Linked DNA regions of Homo sapiens. The protein of the gene in region 2 purifies or fractionates together with the protein of the main gene of each other region. This does not show direct contact. Each region holds a gene or a part of one and is shown on either strand. Other genes may lie near its edges. The genes, in order: MCCC1, GCAT and LONP1.

Region 1 (3,747 bases), on a different chromosome or scaffold from region 2:
GCCCTCCTCATCCTCCCAAGTAGCTGTGACTACAAGTGTGTGCCACTACGCCTGGCTAATTTTTTAATGTTTTGTAGAGATGAAGCCTCACTGTGTTGCCCAGGCTGGTCTTGAACTCTTGAACTCAAGCAATCCTCCCACCTTGGATCCCACAGTGCTGAGAAACTGCTGAAAATACAGGCATGAACCAAGTCTCCTGGCAAAGAGTTTTACTTCTATAAGCCATTAACAACTCTAACACTCTCCAGAGTGACATACTTGAGGATAGTTCTTTAGACAATAGCTAAGCTTTGAAAGGGAAGACAGGAAATGGGTCTATGGTACTATCCTGAAGAGCCCTGGAGGCCTAAGAAAAGAAAAACCAGAAGAACAAGAAGAACATTAACATTACTTACACCAACTTTTTTTTTTATTTTTTTATTTTTTATTTGAGACGGAGTCTTACTCTGTCGCCCAGGCTGGAGTGCAGTGGCGTGATCTTAGCTCACTGCAAGCTCCGCCTCCTGGGTTCACACCATTCTCCTGCCTCAGCCTCCCGAGTAGCTGGGACTAACAGGCGGGACTATAGGCGCGTGTCACCACGCCCGGCTAAATTTTTTGTATTTTTTAGTACAGACGGGGTTTCACCGTGTTATCCAGGTTGGTCTCGATCTCCTGACCTCGTGATCTGCCCGCCTCGGCGTCCCAAAGTGCTGCGATTACAGGCGTGAGCTACCGCGCCCCGCCAACTTCCAACAACTTTCTTATGTTTCTCTGGGGCACTCCTACAATTAAGTAACTAAAAAGGGCATCTACAATATTTCTGGAAAATAAAAGCAAGCAAACGTTCATATAAATGGTTGAGTTTGCATTTATAGACTGATCTTATGTACCAGATTGTGCTTAAACCTCATTCCATGAATTAATTCATTTAGTTTTCACAACCCAAGGTACTCGTATCATCTCCAAGGTGAGGAAATTAAAGAAGAAATATTAAGTAACTTACCCAAAGTCACACACCTAGTGAGTAGCTAACTAAGACCTCAGCCTTGACTGCAGAGTCTGTGCCCTTGAACACTAAACTGTCAATCTTTCCAGAATGATGAAGGATGATAACGATGAAGCAAAAGAAGACAAAGAAGCAAAGCTATCTACAAGCCTGAGGGTTTTTTCACTGCCAGAGTTATTGCCACCAAAGCTTAGAGCTCAAAATTTGAAACAGAGCTGGAGTCAGGTGAGCTAGACTGAGTCATCTGATAGCGTTGTTCAAACTTGGGTACAAGAGTTTTTGACAAAATAATTTCCCAGCTCTGTGGAAGGTACATTTGCTCTTCTTGACAACTTCACTCTTCTAACAATGAGAAGGAACTCCAGGAGTCTTTCTCTGAACTGGACACCTGATGGGGCACAGCTGAACTGAAAAATGGCTTTGAGGGCATCCCGGCCCCATTTCTTACTAGCTGTGTTTCGTTGAGGAAGTCGTTGATCCCTTTGGGCTTCCCCGGAACCGGATTATAACAACGCTCCCACCTAAGGGGTGCTGCGAAAGCCCGATGTAAACGGCTACGAGCTGCAGCGACGGCGAGGGGAGCCTGGAGGATGGCGGGCCCAGTCCTCAGAAATGGAAAAACAGAAGCCAAAGGCGCGCTGAAGCGTGGATGTGCGGAAGCGGGGAGAAAGGGAAGGGCTGGTGGGGATGTCTTCCTCCCGACGCCGTGACTGCCGGCAGAACCCCTCCGAAAGTGCCTGGGGTTTTCCTACCGTCCTCCCCACACCGACCCTGGGTTCCGCCGCACCTCCCACCGCTCACGCGGGTCCGTGCACCCCTCGCTCCCGCCTCTGCCCACTGAGCCATGGCCCCTCCACCCACCTCGGCGGCAGGAGCAGGCTCGGGAGACGATGCCACCGGTTCCTCTCCGCCGCCACCAGCAGCACCGACACCGCAGAGGCCGCCGCCATGTCCCTGGAGCCCGGCCACTCCGTGACTCCCCAGTACAGAGGCAGCTGCGTCCCACACGCCAAACCCGTTCCTCCACTACGAAGCCTCGTGACCCCCGCCGGCCACCGTCGGAGCCTGAGCCTACCTTTGGGCTGATCCAAGAATGTGAGGGCGTCTCCACGAACACCAATCAAAGACCAGAGCCCGGCTTCAGTAGCGACGATTGGGCAGTCTGGCCACGTGCTCGTGGGGGTGTGGCCTTTGTTTCTGCGTCCCCTGGGGCCTGCTCTGACTAAGGCAAGGGTTTTCTCCATCCTCCCCCTCTTGGTTGCCTGTCACTGTTTCTTCCTGCATCCCGTGGGGTTTCTTCGCTCTCGTCACCTTCTGGGAGAAGAACCCTGGGGAAGAAGCCAAATGCGGATGGACAGCAGGATACACAATTCTCTAGTGCTCTCAGGGATGAAAAAATAAATAAGCTAAAGTGAAAATCTTTAAACCACCTGAGCTTAAAACAGGTATTCTAACTGACTATTGGGAAAAAGAGGAAGTCAAAGAGCAAACTGAGGAACATCTAGAGAATAAAGAAACTGTAAACACTACATGTAGATGCTTCATGAGGAAAGCAGGAGGGAGAAATTAGGGAAGATAAAGGAATAAATAAATGAATTCAGGAAACCAGTGTCAAAGGACTAATAAACCCACAGGTTCACAAAAAATAAAATAGTTATCTAATCAGAAATAGAGAAAAATGCACATTTGACATGATTTAAAAAACAAGCAGGGGAAAATCACAGACACAGGAAACAAATTATAGATTTGTAAGATGCTAATTTTGCTTAACTTCAAGTGAACTTAAAACTCTGGATGAAATGGATGATGTTACAAGAAAATACAATTTATCAAAATAGATCCTGGAAGAGACAAAATTTAAGCAAACCGTTACCACAGAAAAAATAGAGAAGTTTATCAAAGAACTATCCTTGCTACCACCATGGCCCACTTTCACCTTCACCTTCACCCCTAAAAGTTACAAAAGCCCTCCATGTCTTGCAAGAAAATTCCACACAAATGAGTAATTGACTCAAATGCTATTAATTCTGTCCCAGAGCACAAAAAAGATGGAAGTCTTCCAAACTCTTTTTAAAAAGTAAACATAACTTTGATACCAAAATCAACAAAGATATCACGCACACACACACGACAGACCAATTTCACATGTAAGTATCAGTGGAAAAATTCTAAATAAAATATTAACTACGCTGGGTGCTGTGGCTCATGTCTTGTAACCCCCCATTGAGATGTGACAGCGTGCTGGCAGTCCTCAGAACCCTCGCTTGCTCTCGGCACCTCCCCTGCCTGGGCTCCCACTTTGGTGGCATTTGAGGAGCCCTTCAGTCCCCCACTGCACTGTGGGAGCCCCTTTCTGGGCTGGCCAAGGCCGGAGCCCACTCCCTCAGCTTGCAGGGAGGTGTGGAGGGAGAGACACGAGCGGGAACTGGGGCTGTGTGCGGCACTTGCGGGCCAGCTGGAGTTCCGGGTGGGCGTGGGCTTGGTGGGCCCCGCACTCGGAACAGCCAGCCAGCCCTGCTGACCCCGGGCAATGGGGGACTTAGCACCCGGGCCAGTGGCTGCGGAGGGTGTACTGAGTCCCCCAGCAGTGCTGGCCCACCGGCGCTGCGCTCGATTTCTCGCCGGGCCTTGGCTGCCTTCCCACGGGGCAGGGCTCGGGACCTGCAGCCCGCCATGCCTGAACCTCCCACCCACTCCATGGGCTCCTGTGCGGCCCAAGCCTCCCCGATGAGCGCCACCCCCTGCTCCACGGCGCCCAG
Region 2 (3,747 bases):
GCCTAATTTTTATATGTTTAGTAGAGATGGGGTTTCACCATGTTGGCCAGGCTGGTCTTGAACTCCTGGCCTCAAGTGATCTCCTCCACCTTGGCCTTCCAAAGTGGAAACTGCCTTTTTGAGCATTCATTTTCCCACCTGCAAAACAGAGTCCCTCACACCTGACCTTCTATAAGAAAAGAGGAGTAGGCGGCAGGAACTGAGACTAAGGGCTCTGGGGCTGTTCTGACGGGAGCACAGTTGCCAGTGCTGCCCTTTAGTGTCCCTGTTCCTGTGGGCAAGTATCTTAACTTTTCTCTGTCTCAATTACTTCATAGGGAAAATGAAGATAATAGCACTTAATAGGATCATTACAAATTAAAGACTTAATACATGTAATGCTTAGAATAGGCCGGGCGCAGTGGCTCATGCCTGTAATCCCAGCACTTTGGGAGGCTGATGCAGGCGGATCACCTGAGGTCAGGAGTTCAAGACCAGCCTGGCCAACATGGCGAAACCCTTTCTCTACAAAAATATAAAAATTAGCTGGCATGATGGTGGGTGCCTGTAATCGCAGCCACTTGGGAGGCTGAGGCAGGAGAATCGCTTGAACCTAGGAGGTGGAGGTTGCAGTGAGCTGAGATCACGCCACTGCACTCCAGCCTGAGCAACAGAGTGAGACTCTGTCTCAAAAAAAAAAAAAAAAAAAAAAAGCATAGAACAGCCTGGCACATAGTACTGCTCAATGAATGTTGGCTATTATTTATTTTCCAAATGTTACAAAATAAATTTATATAAGTATGAAACTTAAATAGTACTTATTATGTGCCAGGAATTCTTTTAAGAAAATTACAACTATTGGCCAGGCGTGGTGGCTTATGCCTGTAATCCAGGCACTTTGGGAGGCCGAGGTGGGTGGATTACTGAGTTCAAGACCAGCCTGGCCAACATGGTGAAACCCTGTCTGTGCTAAAAATACAAAAATTAGCTGGCCGGGCTCGCTTGAACCCATGAGGCAGGGGTTGCAGTGAGCCACGACGGTGCGACCACACTCCAGCCTGGGTGACAGAGGGAAACTCTGTCTCAAAAAAAAAAAAAAAAGAACATTACAAGTATTAACTCATTAATCCTAAGTGATAGTTGCTATTCTTATTCCCGCTATTGAGATGAGGACACTGAGATCCAGAGAGGTTAAGTGACTTGCCCAGAGGCACACAGCCTGTTGTGGGATTTGAACCCTGGCTCAAGAGTCCATGCTGGCTGGGCATGGTAGTTCACACCTGTAATCCCAATACTTTTGGAGCCCAAAGCAGAAGGATCACTTGATGCCTGGAGTTTGAGACCAGCCTGGGCAACATAGCAAGACCCTCTCTCTAAAAAAAAAAAAATGTTTTTAATTAGCTGGGTGTGGTGGTGCGCACCTGTAGTCCCAGCTACTAGGGAGGGGAGGCTGAGTTGGGAGGATCACTTGAGCCCAGGAGTTCAAGGCTACAGTAAGCTATGGTCTCACTACTGCACTCCAGCCTGAGTGACAGAGAATCCCTGTCTCATTTGCCAAAAAAAAGAAAGAGTCTGTGCTCCTGACTACTTGTGATTATCATTAACTGCCCTCTCAGAAAGGTGAGAGTGAAATGAATGTCAGAGGCAGAACTCCTGACTCGCATCCAGTCACTTCCCAGCAAAGCCCTCACCCAGACCCAACAGTTTTCAAATTTACAAATTAGAGGCCCAGGTGAACCCAGAATTACCTCTGTGATCTTTTTCTTCACCATTAGGCGACCAAAAAAGACACTCAGTATGGTGTTAGGAAGACACATCTTTCTTCTCCACGAGTGCCCGTAATTCCACCATTAGACTGCCACTGTAAAACCAAAGTCTGCCCAGGGAGGGAACCTAACAGGTCCCCAGTTCCTCAGTGGGAACTGTCTGTCAGATTCCTGGCAGCTCTGGGATAGCCCATGTGTGGCAGAAAGTAAGGAGACTGAGGCTGCAGGCTTTCTGGGTTGGGTCTCTGTGGTCCTCCAAGCCTCTGTCCCCTCGAACTTGTCCCACATGACCCCACAGGCATCAACACGTGTCTCACTCATTTTCTTCAGAGCATCCACAAGAATCTAGAAGCAAAAATAGCCCGCTTCCACCAGCGGGAGGATGCCATCCTCTATCCCAGCTGTTATGACGCCAACGCCGGCCTCTTTGAGGTGTGTGGAAGCTGTCCTGCGGGTGAGGGTTGGTGGGGCCTGTTAGGCTGAGGAAGGCTTGGGTGTGGGCAGTCGGGAGAACCTAGCAGGATTCAGTGCCATGCCTAGAGGCTCCAGAGCCCGCTTCTGGAGGTCAAGGTTGGGCCAGGTAGGTGCTCCAGGAGGAATCCTGGGGCTTGCAGGGAGCCTGAGTTCCAGAGCCTTTGGGGGATAAGCTACATCAGCTGGAAGGCTGGGGGAGGCGGGGGCCTGGTACTCACCAAATATATTCTCACCTCCTCTTACTAGAGCAGGGCGCTGGTCCAGCCCGGCACTGAGACACGGGGGCCCCAGAGAGAAGCACAGAACACCTTGCCTCTCTACCCAGAGGAGCGCCCTGGCTGGCAGTACAGTTTTTTGATTTGCTGGAGTCCCGGTCAAGGGAGAAGCCCAGGGTGGTTAAATGATGGCTCTACGCTCACTGCCTCCCTCCAGGCCCTGCTGACCCCAGAGGACGCAGTCCTGTCGGACGAGCTGAACCATGCCTCCATCATCGACGGCATCCGGCTGTGCAAGGCCCACAAGTACCGCTATCGCCACCTGGACATGGCCGACCTAGAAGCCAAGCTGCAGGAGGCCCAGGTGGGGCGACGCCTGGGTCCACCCTCAGCCTCCGCCTGGGGAAGGAAGTGAGGCTTAGAGAGGCCAACTCCTCACTCACAGAGATAGCCTGAAAGTTTGAAACAGCAGAGATTTGTCCAAGATGTGAACCCAGATCCCTCACACCCAGAGCATTATTCTTTTTTTTTTTTCCCTGAGACAGAGTTTCACTCTGTCGCCAAGGCTGGAGTATAGTGGTGTGATCTCGGCTCACTGCAACCTCCACCTCCTGGGTTCAAGTGATTCTCCTGCCTCAGCCTCCCAAGTAGCTGGGATTACAGGCATCCGCCACCCCACCTGGCTAATTTTTGTATTTTTAGTAAAGACGGGGTTTCATCATGTTGTCCAGGCTGGTCTCGAACTCCTGACCTCAGTTGATTTCACCCACCTAGGCCTCCCAAAGTGCTGGGATTATAGACGTGAGCCACTGTGCCTGGCACCAGAGCATTATTCCATTGTGCCATGGTGCCTTGAGGTTTTTCCCTGTGTATGTGTGACAGTCTCACTCTGTTGCCCAGGCTGTATTGCAATGGTGCAGTCATAGCTCACTGCAGCCTCAATCTTCTGGACTCGAGCGATCCTCCCACCTCAGTCTCCTGAGTAGCTGGGACTACCGGTGCCCACCACACCCAGTTTTTTATTTATTTGTTTTTTAGATGGAATTTCACTCTTTTTGCCCAGGCTGGAGTGCAATGGCGTGATCTCAGCTCACTGAAACCTCTGCCTCCCAGGTTCAATTGATTCTCCTGCCTCAGCCTCTGGAGTAGCTGGGATTACAGGCACACACCACCGTGCTCAGCTAATTTTCTATTTTTAGTAGAGATGGGGTTTAGCCATGTTGGCCAGGCTGGTTTCGAACTCCTGACCTCAGGTGATCTACCTGTCTCAGCCTCCCAAAGTGTTGGGATTACAGGCATGAGCCACCGCACCC
Region 3 (3,747 bases), on a different chromosome or scaffold from region 2:
GCTATCACAGAGCCTGCTTCGAATGCATGCATGGAACTCTTTTTTTCTTGAGATGGAGTTTCGCTCTTGTTGCCCAGGCTGGAGAGCAATGGTGTAATCTCAGCTCACTGCAACCTCCACTTACTAGGTTCAACCGATTCTCCTTCCTCAGCCTCCTGAGTAGCTGGGATTACAGGTACCTGCCACCACGCCTGGCTAATGTTTTGTATTTTTAGTAAAGACGAGGTTTCATCATGTCAGCCAGACTGCTTTGGAACTCCTGACCTCAGGTGATCCACATGCCTCAGCCTCCCAAAGTGCTGGGATTACAGGTGTGCGACCCCACGCCCGGCCCATGGAACTCATTTCTACATGGAGCCACATCTCCGAGCAGCTAGCTCGACTTTCAGGTAGCCTCATGGAGCATTTCATCACTAAGAGTCCCTGAAGTTAATTTCCCCCGTATCTTAACAATGCATGAAGTTTAGTACTACAAGCTGAGTTCTCAGCCCAGGCTGAAAAGGTAGCCTGCGTGGCTTCTGGCCTTTATTCTGGAGGTCTTCCCTGGTTTCCTCGGGGTCAGGGGTCAAAGGTGCAAAGTACAGAGTAGGACTTGTGGTGAGCTGGACTCTAGGGCACCGTCAACAAGGGAATGAAGGAAAAATCACACTTACCTGTCATCTCTCTTTAGAAAGACGCCGACATAAGGCTGGGCGAGACGAACTTTCCTTCTCAGCAGCTCAACCAACTTCTTATTTTTAACCTAGCATGACAATGACCCCAAAGTGAAATGCAGAGTAGATTTTTTTTTTGAGACAGAGTCTCATTCTGTTGCCCTGGCTGGAATGTAATGGCGTGATCTCAGCTCACTGCAACCTCCACCCCCACTGAGTTCAAGGGATTCTCCTGCCTCAGCCTCCTGAGTAGCTGGGATTACAGGCATGCACCACCACACCTGGCTAATTTTTTTATTTTTAGTAGAGATGGGGTTTCACCATATTGGCCAGGTTGGTCTCGAACTCCTGACCTCAGGTGATCCACCCACCTCAGCCTCCCAAAATGCCGGGATTATAGGCGTGAGCCACCAAACGCAGCACAGGGTAGCTTTTCTTTTTTTTTTTTTTTTCTGAGACGGAGTCTCGCTCTGTCACCCAGGCTGGAGTGCAGTGGCATGATCTCAGCTCACTGCAACCTCCGCCTCCCGGGATCAAGCAATTCTCTGCCTCAGCCTCCTGAGTAGCTGGGATTACAGGCGCCCGCCACCAGGTCCGGCTGATTGTTTTGTATTTTTAGTAGAGATGGGGTTTCACCATCTTGGCCAGGATGGTCTTTAACTCCTGACCTCGTGATCCACCCACCTCAGCCTCCCAAAGTGCTGGGATTATAGGCGTAAACTACCACGCCCGGCCTCCCAGGGTAGCTTTTGTAGCTGACATTTTTTGACAGCAGAGCCGCTCTAACGCTGTGTAGATTATTCTCTGGGGACATGCTGATCCGCATCCTGGATACTAATCAACATGGTTTGGGAACGCCTAAACAAAAAAAAAAAAAAAAAAAAAAAAGTGCTGGAGGCCAGGAGGCTGTGGTGGTGAATACAGTGAGCAGAACTGACCAGCTGGATTCTTCTTAGCGGTTTCCCCACTCCCAAAGGAAATTCAAAGTAGACGAATGGTCAGAACCCAGAAATTGATTTAACATCCAGCTTCAAAGGGGATGTCCAGGGCAAACTGTCTTGGTTTGAAAATCAAAACCATTCTGCTTTTATTAATGTCAGAATAAACATAAGTAATTTAAATGTGACCCACTCCAGAGATTGATAACTTCCTTTTTTTTTTTTTTTTAATAAAGTTTCAGGCTGGGCGCGGTGGCTCACGCCTGTAATCCCAGCACTTTGGGAGGCCGAGGCGGGCAGATCACAAGGTCAGGAGATCGAGACCATCCTGGCTAACACGGTGAAACCCCGTCTCTACTAAAAATACAAAAATTAGCCGGGCGTGGTGGCGGGCACCTGTAGTCCCAGCTACTCGGGAGGCTGAGGCAGGAGAATGGCGTGAACCCGGGAGGCGGAGCATGCAGTGAGCCAAGATCACGCCACTGCACTCCAGCCTGGGCGACAGAGTGAGACTCTGTCTCATAAAAAAAAAAAAAAAAAAAAAAAAAAAAAAAAAAAAGAAAGTTTCACTCTGCCACCCAGGCTGGAGTGCACTGGTGCAATCTCGGCTCACTGCAACCTCCACCTCCCAGGTTCAAGCGATTCTTCCAACTCATCCTACCACATAGCTGGGGTTACAAGCACACGCCACTGCACTCGCTAATTTTTGTATTATTAGTAGAGACGGAGTTTCGCCATGAGCCACCATGCCTGGTTCCTCCAATTTTCATTGACAGTTACTTCCTTATCACATCATATGCTGTTCATTAATGATCAAGACCCCCAGGATCACAGCACATTCTCAACGGCAGGTTCAGGGCTAATGATGTCTTCTAAGAAGCATTTGAAGGCGCAAGGAGCTCACCTGATTTCTTTCAAGCCTTTGTTAATTCACTGGACAGACCCTGATTAAAGGTAATGGCCTGGCTAGCCTGGTAATGGTAGCTCATGCCTGTAATCCCAGCACTTTGCGGGGCTGAGGTGGGAGGATCGCTTGAGCCCAGGAGTTTGAGACCAGCCTGGGTAACACAGTGAGACCCCATCTCTATTTTCTTTTTGAAGTTTTTAATTCTTTATTATATAATAAAGTTAAAATATACATATATATATATATATATATATATATATATATATATATATAGTAATGGCCCTCAAACTTTTGCAGGCACCAGGATGACCTGAAGGACTTTAAGCAGCTCACTGCTGGGCCCCACCCTTGGAGTTTTTGATTCAGTTCTAGGGTGGGTCCAAAAATCTGCATTTCAAACAAAAGAGCATCACATGATGCCGATGCTGCTGGTCCACAACCATCCTTTGAGAGCCAGTGTTTTGACTCACTCCCTAACACAGGCTCTTAACTTGTGGTCCAGAAATTCCTGACACTATAGATACATAATTTTTTTTTTTTCTGTTCCCAGAAAAAAAAAAGTCAGTAACATCTGACAGGAGGGTGTGTGACCCACTGTTATAAGTAAAATGTTTGTTTAGAGACAGAACGCTTGTACCTCTGTACTGTAAGGAAAAATTAGCATTTGGACAAAAAGTTTTCTTAGCAAGACAATTTTACTTTCTGAAGAAAGGGTGCTCCTCGCAGATGGAACAATGGCGAGAGCAGAGCACACCTGAACAAAGGAGGGAAGCAATTTTTTTTTAAGACAGAGTCTTGCTCTGTCGCCCAGGCTAGAGCGCAGTGGAGCGATCTCAGCTCACTGCAAGCTCCGCCTCCTGGGTTCACACCATTCTCCTGCCTCAGCCTCCCGAGTAGCTGGGACTACGGGCGCCCACCACCACTCCAGGCTAATTTTTTTGTATTTTTAGTAGAGACGGGGTTTCACCTTGTTAGCCAGTATGGTCTCGATCTCCTGACCTCGTGATCCGCCCACCTCAGCCTCCCAAAGTGCTGGGATTGCAGGCGTGAGCCACCGCGCCCAGCCCACGAAGTTAGTTTTTAAAAGAAACTAATACTTCTAACACTTATGATTTATTCTTTAATACCCACCAAAAATTAAGAGCCATTGTTCCTTACTCAAAAGTTGCTAATAGGAGAGAAGCTTCTAGAGCAAGTTGGCCAGACAAGTCAAGTACAAACTGAAGAGTAAATCAAGCTTTGCTAACAA

What was found.
Region 1: the proteins of GCAT (region 2) and MCCC1 purify together in Homo sapiens (affinity purification with mass spectrometry; 3 studies listed by BioGRID and IntAct, with this or other methods). This does not show direct contact.
Region 3: the proteins of GCAT (region 2) and LONP1 purify together in Homo sapiens (affinity purification with mass spectrometry; 3 studies listed by BioGRID and IntAct, with this or other methods). This does not show direct contact.

The regions. Positions count from the first base shown.
Region 1 is NC_000003.12:183,097,503-183,101,249, forward strand, and holds the start of MCCC1 (methylcrotonoyl-CoA carboxylase subunit alpha, mitochondrial isoform 1 precursor), read right to left. Parts: upstream 1,995-3,747; 5' UTR 1,939-1,994; coding exon 1,850-1,938; intron 1,742-1,849; exon of another isoform or gene 986-1,741; intron 1-985.
Region 2 is NC_000022.11:37,810,812-37,814,558, forward strand, and holds part of GCAT (2-amino-3-ketobutyrate coenzyme A ligase, mitochondrial isoform 2 precursor), read left to right. Parts: intron 1-2,075; coding exon 2,076-2,177; intron 2,178-2,465; coding exon of another isoform or gene 2,466-2,651; coding exon 2,652-2,798; intron 2,799-3,747. UniProt on the Homo sapiens protein: Pyridoxal phosphate (PLP) dependent enzyme, which catalyzes the cleavage of 2-amino-3-oxobutanoate to glycine and acetyl-CoA.
Region 3 is NC_000019.10:5,713,530-5,717,276, forward strand, and holds part of LONP1 (lon protease homolog, mitochondrial isoform 1 precursor), read right to left. Parts: intron 743-3,747; coding exon 654-742; intron 1-653. UniProt on the Homo sapiens protein: ATP-dependent serine protease that mediates the selective degradation of misfolded, unassembled or oxidatively damaged polypeptides as well as certain short-lived regulatory proteins in the mitochondrial matrix.